Linked DNA regions of Homo sapiens: all the other regions are linked to region 1. Evidence: fine-mapped expression QTL. A gene starts in region 1. Each other region holds a variant in brackets. All regions are shown on one strand. Distances are from middle to middle. Region 1 holds the start of SLC35E4 (solute carrier family 35 member E4). Region 2 overlaps GAL3ST1 (galactose-3-O-sulfotransferase 1). Region 3 overlaps OSBP2 (oxysterol binding protein 2).

The links.
Region 2: its variant is fine-mapped to the expression of SLC35E4 in sigmoid colon (GTEx, PIP above 0.99).
Region 3: its variant is fine-mapped to the expression of SLC35E4 in fibroblasts (GTEx, PIP above 0.99). The same link has a PIP of 0.9 or more in adrenal gland.

The regions. Positions count from the first base shown.
Region 1 is chr22:30,634,543-30,637,382 of GRCh38, forward strand. SLC35E4 (solute carrier family 35 member E4) reads left to right here and starts at 1,239. Exons shown (of 2, transcript NM_001001479.4): 1 at 1,239-2,527. The coding sequence starts at 1,909. RefSeq lists an enhancer at 1-665 and a silencer at 997-1,446.
Region 2 is chr22:30,564,082-30,566,921 of GRCh38, forward strand. All of the region lies in intron 1 of GAL3ST1 (galactose-3-O-sulfotransferase 1), which reads right to left. Among named protein-coding and RNA genes, the nearest start is that of GAL3ST1, 9.2 kb to the right of the region's middle. RefSeq lists a silencer at 1,348-1,548. The variant C/T (reference allele first, on the strand shown) is at 1,577.
Region 3 is chr22:30,715,938-30,718,437 of GRCh38, forward strand. All of the region lies in intron 1 of OSBP2 (oxysterol binding protein 2), which reads left to right. Among named protein-coding and RNA genes, the nearest start is that of MIR3200, 14 kb to the right of the region's middle. RefSeq lists an enhancer at 911-2,110. The variant G/A (reference allele first, on the strand shown) is at 1,509.

The DNA.
Region 1 (2,840 bases):
TGATTGGGATGGGGATTGAGGGCTATATTCAGCGCCTGGCCACCAGAGGGCGCAGCGGGCTGGGTTCAGCGGTACCCCTTTGAGATCTTGTGTCTCAAGACAGGTTGCTGTCATCAAGGATTTGCTGGTTAGACAACAGGCAAGGGGTGAGCTGGGTCCTCTTGGGCAGGAGCCTAGTAGGAAGACCGACAACAGGAAAGAGGCTCACATCTGATACTGGGCACATGGCTGGGCCTTGGTCCTCGTGCTCCCGGACTTCAGAGCTCAGAGGGGCCAGGGCCTGGCCTAGCCTGGAATCTGGATGGACCTCTTCTGCCCTGGGGCGCGCCGTTTACCCAATCCTGACCTCAGAGAGCGTCTGTCGTTCTGGTGGGAAAACCGAGACCCAGACAGGAACAAGGGCTCAGTGGCAACCGCTCTGCCTCCCAGCCCAGGGCTCTGTCTTGCCGGGGCTGGGGCACAGGGTGGACCCCAGGAAGTTCTGCTATGAGTCAGCTTCGAGTGCTCAGGGGACCGGACAGAGGCTGCTGGCCGGGGAAGGATGCCGGCCGGCGGTACCTACTTCCGCAGCTGTGGGTATCCCTGCCTGGTGATTCAGCTTCCCTCTGAGGGTCCCCAGGGGGCGCCGCCCTGGACTGGGAGGCTGGGGAGGATGCTGGGGCTACGGAGGGGCGATGGAGGTGCCTTAAGGGACCCCGTAATCCAGCTCTGCTGGATGCTGAGGTCCCACGAGATAATTGTGGCCAGAGATCAGGTGGGCGTAAGACTGGTCCTAGGATGGGGGCTGTGGGCCCCTCCTCACTACCCTGCTTCTTGAAGATAGCCTGGGCGGCTGTGCGGGATACCCCAGTGTCTCCAGCAATGCGCGTTCATCTCCATGGAGGGCTCGCCTTGGCGCTGGGTGGGGAGCGACTTGGTCCCCCCTGGCGGCGAAGAGAGGCTGACCACGCCAGCTCGTGGGGGGGTCTACTGGGCAGATGCGCAGGCCCCGGGCGGAGGAGGGCTGATGGGGGAAATGCCAGGCCGATGGGGGAGGGGCTGTGAGCGGGAGGCGTTGGGGCGGGGCAAGACCGCCCTCCCGGTCCGGGGGCGGGGCTTGGCCTGGGGCGGGGCTTGGCTGGGGTGCTCAGCCCAATTTTCCGTGTAGGGAGCGGGCGGCGGCGGGGGAGGCAGAGGCGGAGGCGGAGTCAAGAGCGCACCGCCGCGCCCGCCGTGCCGGGCCTGAGCTGGAGCCGGGCGTGAGTCGCAGCAGGAGCCGCAGCCGGAGTCACAGCCGCAGCCAGAGCCGCAGCCAAAGCCTCAGAGAGCAGGAGTTGGAGCGCAGGCCCTGCTGGATCCGCGCCTAGCTCGCCGCCAGGCACCGGCCGGAGGACGGGCCGTGGTGTCAGCTCACTGCCCGGGCGCTGTGGGAGGCAGCGAGCCCGCGACCCCCCGGGCCGGGCACCGCCAGGCGCGGAGCCCAGATCGCCCCCCTGCCAGGCCTGGTCACGGCCAGAGCACGCAGGAGTTCCCAGGGTCTGGATCTGCGCGCACCCTAATGACCTGGGGACTGAAGAGAAAAAAGGAACGAGGATTTCATCTAAAAGCATAACGTGGGCACTAGGCGAGGAGGAAAGTGGAGACCACCTGGCACGGGGCAGAGGTGCCTGGAGCCCACGCTTGAGCATCGGAGACCCTGGCATCCTAGCAGCCGCGACCTTGGCTCTGCCCTGTCTGAGCTGGAAACACAGCTTAGCTTCTAGACATCGCTGGCACAGGCCTGGCACAAGTAAGCAGTGTCCTCACCTGTCTGAAACGGGACACGGGGTCGGAGGAACCAGGATCTAGCCTGGCCCCAAGCGGAACTCTCTGGTGGCCCAGAGGTCGTCACTGGGGAGCCCGCCTCCTGCCCTAGCCTCACTGGTGCGGATGTGCCGCTGCCCGCCGGAGCACCATGATGGCAGGATGACCTCAGCCGAAGTAGGAGCAGCAGCTGGTGGTGCTCAGGCGGCTGGGCCCCCCGAGTGGCCCCCTGGCAGCCCTCAGGCCCTCCGGCAGCCTGGCCGGGCCCGAGTGGCCATGGCAGCACTGGTGTGGCTGCTGGCGGGAGCCAGCATGTCAAGCCTCAACAAGTGGATCTTCACAGTGCACGGCTTTGGGCGGCCCCTGCTGCTGTCGGCCCTGCACATGCTGGTGGCAGCCCTGGCATGCCACCGGGGGGCACGGCGCCCCATGCCAGGCGGCACTCGCTGCCGAGTCCTACTGCTCAGTCTCACCTTTGGCACGTCCATGGCCTGCGGCAACGTGGGCCTAAGGGCTGTGCCCCTGGACCTGGCACAACTGGTTACTACCACCACACCTCTGTTCACCCTGGCCCTGTCGGCGCTGCTGCTGGGCCGCCGCCACCACCCACTTCAGTTGGCCGCCATGGGTCCGCTCTGCCTGGGGGCCGCCTGCAGCCTGGCTGGAGAGTTCCGGACACCCCCTACCGGCTGTGGCTTCCTGCTCGCAGCCACCTGCCTCCGCGGACTCAAGTCGGTTCAGCAAAGTAAGTGCCTGGGTGGCCAATTGAGAAGGTGGGGGTCCGGGTGGGTGCATGGCCTGGATGGCCCTGTGAGGGGTATGGCTGTTGTCCCATTTTACAAATGAGGAAACTGAGGTTCATGGCTGTGGAGGAAGCAGAACTGAGGCTCAGAGAGGGCCAACAGTTCAGTGAGTTCCAGGCCCCAGACTCAGGCTCTGGAGGCCCAACTCGTGTTTATTTGTTTATTTACTTATTTAGACAGGGTCTGGCTCTGTCACCCAGGCTGCATTGGTGAGATCTCAGCTCAATACAGCCTCCGCATCCTGGGTTCAAGTGA
Region 2 (2,840 bases), 70 kb before region 1:
CAAGCATTTCGGATAAGGGATACTCAACCTGTACCAGCTGACCCTCCATCACAGGGTGCTGTGCAGATCCTCTGCATTCCACAGGGAAAGCACCCAGCCCGAGGCTGGTGCAGAGCAGACAGTCACTCAGCAGGGCCTGCCATCATTGTTATCATCATTATCATCATTACGTTCCCAGGGTCCCAGCCACAACCCCATCAAAGTGTGTGCCCACTGGCCCACGATGGAGGCTTGCAGGCAGCCAAGTCCAGGGATGATCTCAATGTAGCCAGAGACTCCTAGCCTCAGGGTCAGAAGACAAAGAGGCAGGGAGGCTCAGACTCAGAGAGGGCAAGGATACCTTTGGGGTAACACAGCCCAGCAGCAGCAGAGACAGGACTAGAACCTGGGTCTCCCACCTCCTCCACCCACAGTAGTGACAACTGCAGGCACTCAGGATGGACGGTCCCCCCGTCACCAGCCCACTCCATCTATTCCTGCCCTTCTAGATTACGCCCATCACATTGGCCTGCATCAGTGCAGGCAGCTGGCAGCAGGCCAGGCCCAGCCATCCTCCTGTTTAGCTGAACTGATGCCCTCCAGGGAATGAAGGAGAAACAGGACTTATTCCCCCACATCATGCACAAAGGGAAACTCAGCCCAGGATGGTAAACCTTCTGGCTTAGAGCATCACCACCAGTCAGGTCTCAGGGTATCCTACTTTCCCTGTAACCCCTGTGGTGGAGCAAAAGAGACACACTCACCTCGGGCTGTGGCTGGCTGCCCCTTTCTACCCACTGCCTGAGCCACGTCCAACTCCCAGGCTGCCTCTGCGATCACTGGGAGACAGGAATGCTCCAATGACACCCAGCAGCAAGCTGGCTGGCTCCCTCCCACTCCAGTGGTGTGAATATTCATGAGTTTGCTTCCTGGGGATAGCAGGTGGCACACCCCAGTACCCTGCAGGTGTTGCCCAGGCCTTCTGCCTCCACTGGACAGCTCTGGCCAGTCCTCACCTCTCTTTGGACCCCAACAAGCAAGCAGCTCTTTCATCCAAGGGCACAGAAAGATTCCAGGTATCCTTGGGCCAAGGACACAGCAACCGCAGACGCCTGCAGAGAGCCCAGAACAGGCTCTAAGGCTGAGTGAGGGACAGAGAGGTGCAGGTGGGCTGGGGTGCCAGAGGGCTAATTGCCCCACCTATTGCATTTCATTTAAGTCTCACAGCTGATGCATCAAGCACCCCTGTTAGTCTACCCTCCTGGTAAAGAAACCAAAGCTCAGAGAGGTAACGTCACCTGCCCAAGGTCACGCAGCTAGTAGAGGGCAGACAGAGCTGGAGTACATACGCAGACTTGCCAAACTCCAGGGCTTAAAGATGCTGAGACACAACCAGGGACCAAGGTTTATCTAAAATCTGTGGGAACCCAGAAGAATGAACAACTAACTCAGCCTGGAAGGCTTCCAGGAGGCAGAGCATCTGACCAGGGCTCAGAAGATGAGTCTGGCAAGATTTCACTTCCTGAGCTCTAAATCTTTCATCAGAGAGGGTGTCCTGCCTCTATCCCTGGGTGAGGAATGGTGATACCCAGACACT[C/T]GACCAGCTCTGCAGGATTTGGGCTGATTGGAGATGCAGATCTTCCCCAAGGCCTTGGCAGAAGAGGCAGTTCTAGGTGCCCTGGCCCTAAGCCCCAGGAACCCTAGGACTCAGTTCAGGCACTTGAATCTTAGGTTCAGGTCAGTTGTCTCAGCTTTGCCCATGGGCAGAGGGTCTCCTTGTGCCCAGAAATGCCTCCTCCATCCTCCCTTCAGCACTGCTGCCTAGAACCCCATCATGGACCAGGCAGGTGTCACCATTTAGGGACCCAGGTGCCACCATCAATTAATAATGATCATTATTGTGACAGTCATTCATCCCACACTAAGCACTTTCATAGGCTAAGCAGCTGCCAGCCTCTCCCAGGGAACAGCAGGCATCCTCACTTGCTCTGAGTCCCCCTTTCCCTCAAAGCCTCACCAGTCTGGGAGCAGCCCCCAAGCACCCACGAAACACCAGAGCTTAAACTGCCACAAGGCAGACCAGAGTCGCCTTCTCTCTAGGTACTGGAACCAGGTTTGGGACATGGTATGGAGTTGTTTTATCCAGCCTAACATCCCATTGACCTTCTGCCTTTTGAGCTGAGCTAGAATGAAGACAGCTTTCTGACGGTGAGTCAGGGCGGAGCTGGCATCAAACCGCAGGGGCTGTAGTTTATTAGCGTGGACTCTGAACCCAACACGGTCCACTTCTGTGCTTGGGACCTGTCATGCATCATGCAGCCTCATAGTCCTCTCTGGGGAGCTCTTGTTATCACCTCCATTTTATAGAGGAGTGAGAACTTCATCTAGGTGAGAGTGAAGTGCAGGCTTTTGAACAAGAAGTGAGATCGTGGCTGAGGAGGTGAGCAACTAGCCAAGGGAAGCAAAGATTTCCAGAGTAGGGAGCACTGATGGTAGACCTGTGCTTCCAGCCCTGCCAGAGGGGTCTCTTTCCAGAGTATTGATGATAACATCTTTTTTTTTTTCTTGAGACAGAGTCTCGCTCTGTCGCCTAGGCTGGAGTGCAGTGGCGCCATCTCAGCTCACTGCAAACTCCACCTCCCAGGTTCATGTTATTCTCCTGCCTCAGCCTCCTGAGTAGCTGGGACTACAGGCACCCTCCACCATGCTCGGCTAATTTTTTGTATTTTTAGTAGAGACGGGGTTTCACCGTGTTAGCCAGGATGGTCTCGATCTCCTGACCTCATGATCTGCCCACCTTAGCCTCCCAAAGTGCTGGGATTACAGGCGTGAGCCACCACGCCCAGCCGATGACATCTTTG
Region 3 (2,500 bases), 81 kb after region 1:
CACCTCAGCCTCCCAAAGTATCCCACCTCAGCCTCCCGAAGTATCGGGATTACAGGCCTGTGCCACCATGCCCAACCACAAGCATCTTTTCTTTCTTTCTTTCTTTCTTTTTTTTTTTTTTGAGACAGAATCTCGCTCTTGTCGCCCAGGCTGGAGTGCAATGGCATGGTCTCGGCTCACTGCAACCTCCACCTCCTGGGTTCAAGTGATTCTTCTGCCTCAGCCTCCTGAGTAGCTGTGATTACAGGTGCCTGCCACCACACCCAGCTAATTTTTGTACTTTTAGTAGAGATGGGGTTTTGCCATGTTGGCCAGGCTGGTCTTGAACTCCTGACCTCAGGTGATCTGCCTGTTTCAGCCTCCCAAAGTGCTGGGACTACAGGCATAAGCCACCACACCTGGCTGAGCATCTTTTCATATGCTTGTTGATCGTTTGTATAACATCTTTAGAGAAATGTCTGTTCAAATCCTTTTTTTGTTTGTTTGTTTTTTTGTTTTGTTTTGTTTTTTGTTTTTTTGAGACAGAGTCTCACATGGTTGCCCGGGCTGGAGTGCAATGGCTCAATCTCGGCTCACTGCAACCTCCGCCTCCCAGGTTCAAGCAATTCTCCTGCCTCAGCCTTCTGAGTAGCTGGGATTACAGGTGCCCACCACCACGCCTGGCTAATTTTTTGTATTTTTGTAGAGATGGGATTTCACCATGTTGGCCAGGCTGGTCTCGAACTCCTGACCTCAAGTGATCTGCCCGCCTCAGCTTCCCAAAATGCTGGGATTACAGGTGTGAGCCACCATGCCTAGCCCCTTTGCTCATTTTTTAATCATTTATTTGATTTTTGTTGTTGAGTTGTAGAAGTTCTTCTTACATTCTAGACATTAACCCACTGTCAGATATATGATTAGCAAATATTTTCTCCTATTCCATAAGTTTCCTTTTTACTTTGTTGATTGTGTCCTTCAAGGAACTTAAGTTGTGTCCTTCGATGGAGTCCCATTTGTCTGTTTTTGCTTTTGTTGCCTGTGCTTTTGGTGTCATATCCAAGAAATCATTGCCAAATCCAATGTCATGAAACTTTATGCCTATGGTTTTCTCTAGGAGTTGTACAGATGTTACATTTAGGCATTTAAATCTATTTTGTTTTAATTTTACTGTTTTTGTGTGTGTGTGTGTGTGTGTGTGTGTGTGTGTGTGTGTGTGTAGAGACAGGGTCTCGCTATGTTGCTCAGGCTGATCTTGAACTCCTGGCCTCAAGTGATTCTCCTACCTCAGCCTCCCAAGTAGCTGGGATTATAGGCAAGAGCCACTGCACCTTGCTGGGTCTTTAATCCATTTTGAGTTAATTTTTGCATATGGTGTGAGATAAGGGTCTAACTTCATTCTTTTGCACAAGGACATCCAGTTTTTTCAACATCATTTGTTGAAGAGACTGTCCTTTCCCCCACTGAGTCATCTTGGCATCCTTGCCAAAGATCATTTGACACAGGGAAAAAATCAAGGCCTTTTGAAAAAC[G/A]CCTACACTAAGGGGAAATGACACATGTTTTACTGTCCAGCTGCAGCTGTGCCATCCAGGACCAGATGGGAAGTTACATCCAGGAAAGTGGACCTCTAGAGTCCCTTCTCACATCTCTAGGCTTTGCTCACTAGCTATAAAGCCCTGTACTTACAAAAAGAATGATTGCCATAGCCTGTAAGAAAGCAGATGGAAGTCAAAAGCAGATCCTTAGGTTGATGACAAAGATTGCTGGTTGAGACTCTTATTTTGACACTTAGAGTCTCCTTATTCATCTTCTATTCATCTCAAATATGTGCCAACATGACTCCCCCTCAGGACTGGCCTCATCTCTGCCTCTCCAGCATCATCATCTCCTGCTGATCCCTTGCTCTACTCTGACACCTCAGTGACAATGGGTTGTGTGTGCATTCTGACAGGCGAGGGTGGGCGGGAGTTAGAATCGAGTCCTCAGCTCACCTGTCCTCCTGGATCAAGCAACTTCAAAACACATTGCCCAGTGGTGATTTAAACTCTGAGGTTAAAGCAGCAGTGGTTTTCTCTTGCTTGAGGGTCCGCAGATGACCAGGCCAGGTCTCCTTCAGGCAGTGGCACTTGGGAGTAAGCTAGGAGGTGTGTCTTCCTGTTGTGATGGCAGAAGTACAGGAGGGTAATCGAGAGTCACAGCATCCCAGCTTGAGCCTGCACACCCTCACTCCATTCCACATTCCATTGGCTGAATCAAGGCATGTGGCCCTGTCCAATATCAGTAGGGTGGGAAGATATCCATTCCCCATTTTAGAGGATCCTACAAAGTCCAGTGGCAAAAGTTGTGCACTTAAAATTGTAGTTCAGGGATGGCAGAAAGAAACAGGAGAAATGCTTCAGTCTGTCACAGCCTCTAACCTCCCTTCTAACGATCACATCCTTTAGCCTCTTTATCTATAGAGTGAGAGGACTAGGCTAGGTGATGTCTGGGGTTCTTTCTATCCTTACCTTTCTGAAAATTTGAT